Homo sapiens: one gene and its partners. The protein of the gene in region 1 interacts with the protein of each later gene in a pairwise test. Each region holds a gene or a part of one and is shown in the gene's direction. Other genes may lie near its edges.

Evidence for each region. Proteins that work in one complex are often made in the same cells at the same time.
Region 2: the proteins of FTO (region 1) and USP20 interact in binary tests that used the Homo sapiens proteins (3 or more experiments, as listed by UniProt).
Region 3: the proteins of FTO (region 1) and SHC3 interact in binary tests that used the Homo sapiens proteins (3 or more experiments, as listed by UniProt).

Annotation. Positions count from the first base shown.
Region 1 is NC_000016.10:53,828,613-53,834,191, forward strand, and holds part of FTO (alpha-ketoglutarate-dependent dioxygenase FTO), read left to right. Parts: intron 1-5,579.
Region 2 is NC_000009.12:129,841,958-129,845,457, forward strand, and holds part of USP20 (ubiquitin carboxyl-terminal hydrolase 20), read left to right. Parts: intron 1-3,500.
Region 3 is NC_000009.12:89,042,819-89,046,318, reverse strand, and holds part of SHC3 (SHC-transforming protein 3), read left to right. Parts: intron 1-485; coding exon 486-573; intron 574-3,500. UniProt on the Homo sapiens protein: Signaling adapter that couples activated growth factor receptors to signaling pathway in neurons. Involved in the signal transduction pathways of neurotrophin-activated Trk receptors in cortical neurons.

The DNA of each region.
Region 1 (5,579 bases):
TAAGCATTTTACATGCATTAACTCATTTTGTCTTCCCAACAATTCAAAGAACAAAATAGTAATGAAGTACTATTGCTATCCTCATTTTACAGATGAGGAAACTGAGTCACAGAAGGTTGATTAACTTGTTCATGGTGATGCAGCAAGTAATTAGCAGAGTTAGGATTTGAGGACAAATATCCAGGCTTCAGAATCTTAACACCTAAGGCTATGTGCATTATGAGCAGGTATTTCTTATCCCAGCAGTGTAGCCGTCTCAGGGATTTTATTTTATTATTTTACTTTTTTAATTTTTTGAGACAGAGTGTTGCTCTATCTCCCAGGCCGGAGTGCAGTGGCACGATCTCGGCTCACTGCAACCTCCGCCTCCTGGGTTCAAGTGATTCTCCTGCCTCAGCTTCCCGAGTAGCTGGGATTACAGGCATGCACCACTACTCCCAGCTAATTTTTTATAATTTTAGTAGAGACGGGGTTTCACCATGCTAGCCAGGCTGGTCTCAAACTCCTGACCTCGTGATCTGCATGCCTTGGTCTCCCAAAGTGCTGAGATTACAGGTGTGAGCCACTGCGCCTGGCCAGGGACTTGGATTTTTAAAATGTCCACCTTCTGGAAAGGTTAAGGGGACATTCCACTTGCTTTTTCTTTCAGGTCCTGGTGTCTTCCTTTCTCCAGCTTTACTTCTCACCCACATCTGCTGTAGCTTTCCAGCACATACTCTCAGATGATTGGAATGCATCAGATTATCTTATTCGATGAAACAGAACCTTTCTGTAGGTGTCTGGCTGTGTGTCAGACGGCATACAAAGCATGTGGCTCTGGGTCAGATGGTGTACAAAGCATGTGCCTTGAAACTCTATGGTGGGCGCATGTCTTCTAAGTGACAAGTGATATCTGTTTAGTTTTCTGGTCTTATAATCCTTGGCAGAATGCCAGAACTATGGCAAAGGTGGACTTGAAGAGAATCATTTGGTTTAAAATTTTGGTTGAGGTTGAGAAGGGCTTAAGGAGGTCATAGAGAGTGGACACTTCAGAGAATTGTATTTTTTTCTGTGTCCTTGAACTTGTTTGTCAATGAGCTGTTCTAGACAGTATGGGAACTCCAAAGATAAATCAATGGCTTTCTCACTTTGAGGTAATAGGGAGGTAATAGGTGGGCTCTCGTGATTATAATTATGAAATGATGAAACATTGGGTTTGAAAGAGACTTTTGAAATCACTTGATTCTAGCCTTTCATTTTACAAATGAAAACACCGAGAAGGGAAGTGGCTTGGCCAAGGTCACATTGCTACTTAGTGATAAGAGCAGGGATTTAAGTTGGAAAGTGTTCCTTGCCACTGGAGAGGTTCACGTAAAATGCACTGGGAATTCAGATACAGAAGTGATTGCTTCCTGCTGAAATTAAATTCAGTTGAAGCTTAAGATCTTTCAAGACTCTGCTCTCAATACCTTTTCCCAGGGAAATCTTCTTGTAGATTTATAATGAGCCAGTCATCCCTCTTTGGTTTATTTTCATGAGTAGAGGTCATTGAGAAGTAATTTGTATAGGATACGTGTAATTATATACTAAATTCATTGGCTTTCACATGCCGTTCTAGTTAATAGATATCTCCAGTAGGAAGATTGAAATGGTACAATTTTTAATCAGGAATGGCTTCGGGGAACCATATGTAAATAGGCAGAATATTTGATTTTCCTATTCCAGCTTTGCTGGCAATTGCTTGTTACTCCTAGCTATAAAAAACGAACTTTAGCGGGGAAGGCATTAAAAACCCAATGTTTAATATGGTCCAGCACCTTGTTCTTTGACTGGAACACCTTCAGAAACATCACTTAGATCAACAGTAACTATTGGCTACCATTTTTGTTTCTTTGTCTGGAAGGAAACATTTTCTGTGAAATTGTCTTTCTAGAAAGAAAAGCAATTCTTAAGATTTTAAACTAGTGCCAAGTATTGCATATTCTTGACATTATTTTCCAGACCTCCCACAAGGAGCCAGGAAGGCAGCTGGGCGCGGAGGCTCACAACTGTAATCCCAGCACTTTGGGAGACCAAGGCAGGTGGATCACAAGGTCAGGAGTTCAAGACCAGCCTGGCCAACATGGTGAAACCTTGTCTCTTAGAAATAGAAAAATAAGCTGGGCATGGTGGTGCGCACCTGTAGTCCCAGCTACTCGGGAGGCTGAGGCAGTAGAATTGCTTGAACCTGGGAGGCAGAGGTTGCAGTGAGCTGAGATTGCGCCACTGTACTCCAGCCCGGGCGACAGAGTGAGATTCCGTCTCAAAACAAACAAAGAAACAAACAAAAATCCAAAACCCAGGAAGGCTCACAAAAGGAAGAAACCGATCCATGTTTCCTGTTGAGCATGTGATAGGCTGGAAAGTAGAGACTTTGCAATAATGTTCTTGGAATTCTAGGATTTCCATTCATGTCTTTGATTTGGGAAAAATTGCATCCCCTTAAGGATGGAAATTTGTTCCCGTAATTCTTGAATCTCTATTTTAACATGACTTGCTCTATATTTCTCAGCTCATCACTGAGACCATGAAAAGCTAGTTTATAATTACAGCTTGGAGTTTTGGAGTATTCATAAAAACGCTGTGATGTTTAATGTTATCTTAGCGTCCCAGCATCCCTGTCTAAAATCTCAAAGCTTATTTGACCTAGCTTTTTTTTATTGTATCATGCTATGCCTTGTCAGTGATTTTTGAAATCACTTATACTGCTCAGTAAAACTTGTTTGGTCTTATAAGTCACATTTTTGGGGGTGACCATCCAGTTATTTATTCATCTAACAATAAGGTCTCCCATGAAGAGCCAAGAAGGCTCACAAGAAGACCAAAGGGGGGGAAAAAACTTATTTGATCTACAAAGTTACATTTTTTTCATGCCTATGCAATTATTTTTTCATTTAACAATAAGCATCTACTATTTGCTAGTCAGTTGTCTAGATGCTGAGCATGTATCAGTGAACAAAACAGACAAAAATCCCTGCCCTCATCAAGCTCACATTCTAGCAAGGGAAAACAGAAAATAAAAGTAGATTGTGTAACAAGGGTGAGGGATAATCTTACAATTTTAGGTAGGAGAGCCAGGCAAGGCCTTGTTAAAGGGGTAACATTTAAGCAGATTGGACGGAGAGAATGAGCCACTGAGAAATTTGAAGCGGGAGCACATAGGCGGGAAGATAGAACATGATTGGGATGTTTCAGAAGCAACAAGTGTGGATGGAATAGAGTGAGAGAAGAGGAAATGAAATGAAGACAAAGGGACAAGTAAATGGGTGGCAGAAGGTAGGGCTTTGTCATGTTAGAATACAAAGTAGTAGGTTTGGATTTGGAGTGAGATGGGGAGCCACTGAGGAGTAGAAGAAGGGAAGCAACACCAGAAACAGGAGAGCTCACAGAGGTGACCAAAGTAATCCAGACTAGGGATATGATGGTCCAGATCAGAAGAGGCAGAGCAGGGGAGAAATGTGTAAATACAGTCCTGTAACTTTTTACCAACAAAGAGAGTGGCAGTGTTTCAGCACCAGTGAGAAAGGATAACCAGCAGTGGCATCTCCCATTTGTCAAGAGAAGGCTAAGCCTGTAAGAATGGCTACATTTTCTCCCCTCTGTGAATGGCTTTATTCGGGAATAACTGACATACAATAAGCTATACATATTGAACATTTATAGTTTTATAAGTTTCAACACACCTGTGAAACTATCCCCACTATCAAGATAATGAACATACCCATTATTCCAGAAGTTTCCTTGTGCCCCTTTGCAATTCCTCTTCCTGACATATCTGTTTTCTTTTTTTATTGTTTTTTATTTGTTTGTAGAGACTGGGTCTCAATATGTTTCCCAGGCTGATCTTGAAATCCTGGCCTGAAGAGATCCTCCTTGCTCAGCCTCCCAAAGAGCTGGAATTACAGGTGTGAGCCACTGTGTCAGCCTGGATTTGTTTTCTGTCACTAGATGAGTTGGCATTTTCTAGAATTTTAACCAGATGGAATTATATATGTGCACGGTTTTTTTGTCTGGATTCTTTAACTTAGCATAGTTATTTTGAGATTCATCCATGTTGTTATGTATATCAGTAGCTCATTCCCTTGTATCCTTTTTTATTTCAATAAAATATACATAAAATTAATCATTATAACCATATTAACTGTACAGTTGAGTGGCATTAAGCATCATCCCACACCAAATCTCTGTACCCATTTAAACAATTACTCCCCATTTCTCCTTCCCTCATTTCCTGGTAACCACTGTTCTGCTTTCTGTCTGTATTATATTTGACTATTCTAGGTACCTCATGTAAGTGGAATCATACAATATTTGACCTTTTGTGTCTAGATTATTGATATGGTTCAGCTGTGTCCCTGGGCAAATATCAACTTGAATTGTATCTCCCAGAATTCGCACATGTTGTGGGAGGGACCAAAGAGGAACTGGTTGAATCATGAGGCCGGTCTTTCCCGTGCTATTCTCATGATAGTGAATAAGTCTCACGAGATCTGGTGGGTTCATCAGGGGTTTCCGCTTTTGCTTCCTCCTCATTTTCTCTTGCCACTGCCATGTAAGAAGTGCCTTTTGCCTCCTGCCATGATTCAGAGGCCTCTCAGCTATGTGGTACTGTAAGTCCAATTAATCCTCTTTTTGTTTCCGGTTTCGGATATGTCTTTATGAGCAGCATGAAAACAAACTAATACAACTATTTTACTTAACATAGTGTCCTCAAGATTCATCCATGTTATGGCATGTATCAGAATTTAATTCCTTTTTAAAGATGACTAATATTCCATTGTATGAATATACCACATTTTGTTGATTGATTCATCCATCGGCTATTCATAATAGCCATCTTTTGGCTATGGTGGATAAAGTTGCTGTGAACAAATATCTCTGTATACAAATATCTGTGGGAATCTCCGCTTTCAGTACTTTTGTGTGTATACTTTTTTTGTGTATATACTTTTGTGTATGTACTTTTGCGTAGGATTGCTGGATCAAATGATAGGTCTATGTTGACATTTTTGAGGAACTGCTGTACTGTTTTCTACAGCGACTGAACTGTTTTATATTCTCGCTGGCAATGCGCAAGGGCTCTAATTTCTCCACATCTACGCCAACACTTACTGTTTCCTGTTTTTTGATAACAGCCATCATAATGGGTATGAAGTGGTATCTCCTTGTGGTTTTGATACACATTTTCCTAATAATTAATGATGTTGAACATCTTTTCATGTTCTTAGCCATTTATATATCTTCTTTGGAGACATGTCTATTCAAGTTGTTTGCCCATTTTTGAATTTGGCTGGTTTTTAGTTGTTGAGTTTTGTGAGTTCCTTATGTATTCTAGATATTAATTCCTTATCAGATATATGACTTGCAATATTTTCTTCAAGGATAGCTGAACTTTTTTTTTTTATTTTTTTTGAGACGGAGTCTCGGTCTGTCACCCAGGCTGGAGTGCAGTGGCGCGATCTCAGCTCCCTGCAAGCTCCACCTCCCAGGTTCACGCCATTCTCCTGTCTCAGCCCCCTGAGTAGCTGGGACTACAGGCGCCCACCACCACACCCGGCAAA
Region 2 (3,500 bases), on another chromosome or scaffold:
TCCTACCAATTTCAGTGTCCTAATGTATAGAACAGCCAGTGACACAAATTATAGTAGTAAACATTTTTTGAGCATTCTTGTCATGCAAATCAATAAAAAATCTGAGCCACCCAGAAAGTCCATGAGGCCCTAAGTCATTCAACTTAGCGTTTACTGTGCATTGGCTCACTTCATCTTCTCAGTAACCCTAGGTGCTGTCATTGTCCCCATTTTATGAATGTGGAGACTGAGCGATTTATCTAAAGTCACAGACTTGCAAGGGGCAGAGTGAGGTACTGAACCCAGGGCTACTTGTCCCTGTAATTTCCTTCCATAGTGACCGTTACCTCCCGGGATAATGTATGTGCAGCAGCTAACCCTCAGTGAGTGTAGGAAACAGAGGTGCTGGTGGTGATTATCACCTCCCTAGTGTCTGCTTGCAAGTACCCTGAGGTTGAAGTATGGGACTCTGTACACTACAAGAGCAGGGCCTATGCCTGGCTGTTTCCCAGCACCCCAAGTCACTGTTCCTAAGGAGGTACATGGTCAGTGTTGGTTGGGTACCAAAAGGAAGCAAAATGATAACTTTCAGACAGCTGAGATATGCACCCTCTTGTCGACCCCCATGCTTCCGATATTTTAGGTCCTGTGTGTGGAAGTTTTTTTTTTTTTTTTTAGACGGAGTCTTACTCTGTTGCCCAGGCTGGAGTGCAATGGCGTGATCTCGGCTCACTGCAACCTCTGCCTCCTGGGTTCAAGCGATTCTCCTGCCTCAGCCTCCTGAGTAGCTGGGCTTACAGGCATGTGCCACCACACCTGGCTAATTTTTTGTATTTTTAGTAGAGATGGGATTTCACCATGTTGGTCAGGCTGGTTTCGAACTCCTGACCTTGTGATCCACCCTCCTTAGCCTCCCAAAGTGCTGGGATTACAGCTGTGAGCCACCGCACCTGGCCCTTTGTGTGGAATATTAAGCACCCAGTGTTTTCTGTACTACCGCCCTTTTTCCTTCATAGAAATGATTTTTAACCATTAATTTTTAAAATGTTAGTAAACCTTAAACTTTTTATGTTGCACATACTCATATACTGCTGATAGGCAGATAAATGTATATACTGTTTCTAAAGGGAAGCTTATCAATATCTATGTAGAGCCTTCAAAGCACACATTTTGACCAATAATTTTTTTTTTTTTTTTTGGTCAAAGATGTAGGCCGGGCATGGTGGCGTACACCTGTACTCCCAGCACTTTGGGAGGCCGCAGTGGACAGATCACTTGAGGTCAGGAGTTCGAGACCACCCTGGCCAACGTGGTGAAACCTCGTCTCTACTAAAAATACAAAAATTATGTGGGTGTGATGGTGGATTCCTGTAATCCCAGCTACTCTAGAGGCTGAGGCAAGAGAAACGCTTGAACCCAGGAGGCGGAGGTTGCAGTGAGCAGAGATCACGCCACTGCAGTCCAGCCTAGGCAACAGACTAAGACTCTGTCTCAACCACGACAACAACAAAAAGACAGTCTGGTCGCAGTGACTCACGCCTGTAATCCCAGCACTTGAGAAGCTGAGGCAGGCGGATCACCTGAGATCAGGAGTTCAAGACCAGCCTGACCAATGTGGTGAAACCTCATCTCTACTAAAAATCCAAAAAGATTAGCTGGGCGTGGTGGTGTGTGCTTGTAATCCCAGCTACTTGGGAGGCTGAGGCAGCAGAATTGCTTGAACCCAGGAGGTGGAGGTTGCAGTGAGCCGAGATCACACCACTGCACTCCAGCCTGGGTAACAAGAGTGAAAACTCCATCTCAAAAAAACAAAACAAAACAAAACAAAAAGATTTAGTCAAAGTTTCACATTCCTGGTGGCTCACACCTGTAGTTCCAGTACTTTGGGAGTCCAAGGCAGGCAGATTGCTTGAACCCAGGAGTTCCAGACCAATCTGGGCATCATGGCAAAACTCTGTCTCTATAAAAGAAAAATTAAAAAGTAGCCAGGCTTGGTAGTGCATGCCTGTAGTCCTAGCTACTTGGGGGGCTGAGGTAGGAGGATCACCTGAGCCCAGGGAGGTAGAGGCTGCAGTGAACCATGATCACACCATTGCACTCCAGCCTGGGTGACAGATTGAGACTTGTCTTTAAGCAAAACAAAAGATTCATATTCCAAAATGTTTCTCAGTGCCTTCTTTATAATGGCAAAACACACATACACAAAATACAAAAATACCACGTCCTATGATGGATAAATAATTCAGTAAGGGGTTGTATAGCTTAAATTATATGTGGTATAATATTATTCACCTATTAGAAATGAAGCTGAAAAGAAATTTAGTGACATTAGAAATATATAAACCAAAAAAAGCTGTATACAAATTTATTGGTTATATTGCAGTTTATTTTTAAAATTTATATATCTGGTTGGGCATGGTGGCTCACGCCTGTAATCCCAGCACTTTGGGAGGCCCAGGCAGATGGATTGGTTGAGCTCTGGAGTTTGAGACCAGCTTGGGCAACATGACGAAACCCCATATCTACAAAAAATACAAAAATTAGCCAGGCGTGGGAGTGTGTGCCTGTAATCCCAGCTACTCGGGAGGCTGAGGTGGTAGGATGGCTTGAACCTGAAGTGGAGAGTGTGTTCAGTCGAGATCGCACCACTGCACTCCAGCCTGGGTGACAGAGCGCGACTCTGTCTCAAAAAAAAAAAAAAAAAAAAAAAAATTATATATTCGTACATGTAAATAAGACTTACCAAAACCAAAAAGGTAACCATATTTTTTTTCCTGTACAGCAGGATTACAGGTGATTTTTATTTCATTTTATGTCTGTGTCTGTTTCCAGCTTCTATGAAGGTATATATCAAATTTATGAAAACCAGACAAAAATGCCTTTAAAATTTTCAGGACAAGTAGGAGAAGATGAAAAATTTGAATACAACATGGAGGTAAATGAGGCAAAAATGAATATTGAGAGGGCCGGTCATGGTGGCTCATGTGTGTAATCCCAGCACTTTGGGAGGTGGAGGTGGGCAGATCACTTAAGCCCAGGAGTTCAAGACCAGCTTGGGCAACACGGCAAAACCCTGTCTCTACCAAAAATACAAAAATTAGCCAGTCTCATAACCTGGTCTCTAAATAAATAAATAGATAAAAATACAAAAAACACATGTTGAGGGCACTTCTTGGCCCCTGTGAGTCACCTGGAGAAGTGTGCTTAGGAGCCATCCAGGTAGCAGCTTTGGGGACTTCTGGGACCACTCAGATGCTCCCACCCCTTCTCTGAAAACCACCCTGTGTAGGCTCAGGGCAGTGCCTGGCACAGGGGCCTGGAGAGCTCCAGGGAACAGAGGCTCTGTCCCCTATGGTGCCCTCAGGAGTTTGGGGAAGAGCAACATACCTAGGAAGCCAGATGCACACTCTTCTTATTTTCTTATTTTGGAAACTTGAAAAACCATTAACAGTAACCGATTTAGGTATTTTTTTTGGTTTGTTTTTGTTTTTAGGAGCAGAGGTTTAACAGGCAAAAGAAAA
Region 3 (3,500 bases), on another chromosome or scaffold:
CACCACTAAAAATGGCAAAATAACGTTGAGCTCAGGGATCTGACACTGAGAGGGAATTTCCTGATTTTTTGAAGGAAATTTCCTGGTTTACAGAGTGGACTTGACCAAGTGTGAACGATCATGGGCGTATGTGTTATGTGGGAAGTGTGTTCTGACACATAGATACTCTGTAATTGAAATTTATTTTAGGACATACATATGGAAGAGCTTGATTTACAGTCACACTTCGGGAGGGGTGGGGGGGGTAATGAAAACAAGCGGGGGGGCATGTGTAGTTTTGATGGAGATGCAGCCTTTTCCTCACACCCACACAAACTTATTTCCCAAATCTTAATGCCAACCATGAGGCATGAAGGGAAAATTGGGTGTAACAGAGGATGCGAACCACCTTAAGGATCAACTCGCCGACTGTCTTGTGGCTTTCAAAAGTGGTGAAATGAGAAGAAAATAATTTTTTCATTCTGTGTATTTACATGTGTCTATAGTTTGCAGGAAAAGAGCAGACTTATTACCAGGGAAGACACTTAGGAGACACTTTTGGCGAAGACTGGCAGCAAACACCTTTAAGGCAAGGTGAGAGGCAAGGTGAGATGGGTGAGAAACACAAAAGACACTTTTCAAAAGTAACATGCTCACCACTGGGTCGCCTATTTTCTGTGGACTGACAGAGTGACCCCTGGATATATGTGCTGTGTGTGTTGCTATAGAATCCTGACTAGACTATAGAAATAGAAGCAACGGTGTGGTCAGGCGCGGTGGCACACGCCTGTAATCCCAGCACTTTGGGAAGCTGAGGCGGGACAATCACCTGAGGTCAGAAGTTCGAGACCAGCCTAACATGGTGAAACCCCAACTCTACTAAATAAAAAAATTTGCCGGGTGTGGTGGCGGGTGCCTGTAATCCCAGCTACTCAGGAGGCTGAGGCAGGAGAATCACTTGATCCCAGGAGGTGGAGGTTGCAGTGAGCCAAGATGATGCCATTGCGCTCCAGCCTGGGCAACAACAGCAAAACCCCATCTCAAAAAAAAAAAAAAAAAAGCAACAGTGTTGCAGACATCTCCTGGCACCAATCAGATAGTGCCTCCCTGCAGCTCCAGGACCATTCACACCCCGTCTGCAGTCACTGCCTCATGCCCTTGAGACTGTACACCTCCATGCTGGGAGAGCTTCCATGCCCAGGGGTGCTGAGAAGTTGACATCTCAGGCATACTTCACCCCAGTTTCCTATGGGAACTGGTGAGGCAACTCTAAGGTGGAGGTTGAGCCCCCGTGACTCCTACAACAAATTGTTGCCTTTCCTTCCTTGTCTCGTTCTCCTTCCCTTTACTCAGGGTCAGCTTCAGGGGGGATGTGAAGCCCCCTACTCTAAGCTGGGGATTGAGGCAGAGGTGGCACCAGGGATATACGTCTCTCACAGGCCCTGGATACTCTCAGAGAACACTTCTGCATCTTACAATCATAATATGCACCTACATCACACATTAAAACTAATGTCGATATAACTGTCTATAAGTCAGATATCTGCAAATAATTCAAATATATTTAGATACAGCCATCATAATTTAGATACAACTATCTAAGAAGTAACTGCTAATTGCTCACATAAGTCTTTATTCTCTAGACAGTTATATATACACATACAAATATGTATGAATGTATTCATATCTCAATCTAATCCTTTAAGAATGTCTTTTAATTTTAACCTTTTTCCCTTCTCAAAAACATTTATAACTCTTTCACTAGCTCTGGGATCCTGGCTACTAAGTCTATAAGATCTGAAGGGGATGGATGCAACTGATGCTTCTATGTATCTAAATTTAAACATTATTGGTTTAATGTTGAGGCTTATTCCTTCATTATAGCTATTTATGCCAGGAAGCAAATGACAATACATTTTTAAAATGTCCTCTGTGTAAGAGAATTTCGTCTCGCCTGCCCCAGATGCAGGAAGACCCACAGTGCTGGCCCAGTCAATAAAACATAAGGCCTGGCAGAAGCCACCACATGTTCTGCCTCAGAATAGGCTGGAAATAGCAAATCAGAGTCATAACTTTGCCAGAGGGACATTTTCATTATGGGCTATTTATCCTTGTTCTACACACATTTAAAATGCATTTCCATAACATGTGTGTGCATAGACATATAATAACTGCTAAAGAATAAAGGAGACACATTATTTCCCTTAGATATTTACTTTATTGTAAAATATATCAGGTTTATTTTAAAATAGGCCTTGTTTTTGATATATTCAAGTTATTCCAGCCAGATCGAGAACAGATGATGTCGCAGAATGAACTCCTGGCCTGGAACTTGAGACTCAGAGCTCTCAATAAATTTCCAGCTCTTCTTTGAAAACAATAAATAGGCAGGGCATGGTGGCTCACGCCTGTAATTCCAGCACTTTGGGAAGCCGAGGCGGGTGGATCATCTGAGGTCAGGAGTTCGATGCCAGCCTGGCCAACATGGTGAAACCTCGTCTCTACTAAAAATACAAAAAATTAGCTGTGCATGGTGGTGGGCACCTGTAATCCTAGCTACTCGGGAGGCTGAGGCAGGAGAATTGCTTGAACCTGGGAGGTGGAGGTTGCAGTGAGCCGAGATCATGCCACTTGCATTCCAGCCTGGGTGACAGAATGAGACCCTGCCTCAAAAAAAAAAAAAAAAATAAATAAATATCTTTTCTCACATAACAAATTAGAATGTCACTTATTAATTTGCTGGCAGATACTGTCCCTAATGGAAGTGAACTCCAGGTATCACGATGGCACGTGTCCTCCTGCCCCGGCTCAGCACCTGTTGTCATCTATGGTGGGAAAGGGCAGTCAGGAAGATTATGCATTTGGGCTCTTGATCTTCTCCTTTTAAAATTTTTTAATGAAATTCTTTTCTAAAGGCTGATTCGTTTGCAATGTACACAAAGGTGTAAACTGCAAATAGCTGTCACTAAGCAAGGATGCGTAATCTGACTAGACTCTTCAATGTAGAAAGCATGTTGAGAAATAGGAGAGTAGAAACACAGTCCATGATGTTGCAGGTGGTGCTCCCCAGCGAGGGAATGTTAGCACGACACTTCATTCTCACACCTACAGCCTGGGAGACAGTGGTGTGCTGGCAAATGTCCAGCCACAGGCTCTTGGGAACGCTTTTTAAAAAGCCCTGAACCAACTCCTGCCAGCTGGATTGAGCTGGCTTCAACACACCACCGCCCATAGGGTATGAAAGACACCCTCTTTCCAGAAATGTGAATACCACAGGGTGTTCTTGCGAACATGTTTACGTAAGAAGATTGGAGACAGGGCGCACACACAAAAAGACTCCGAGAAGGATCTGAACAGGCGTTCTCCGGCAACTAGGTCTGGGTGTCACTTTCACCCAGGGTCTGGGTGACAGAACAGCCCGGGCCCAGCCTCAGCACACCCACTGGCTAGCTGTGAAGTCCTGTCAAGGCACTAGGTCTTTCACACTAGGTCTCGGTGACAGAACAGCCTTGGCCTAGCCT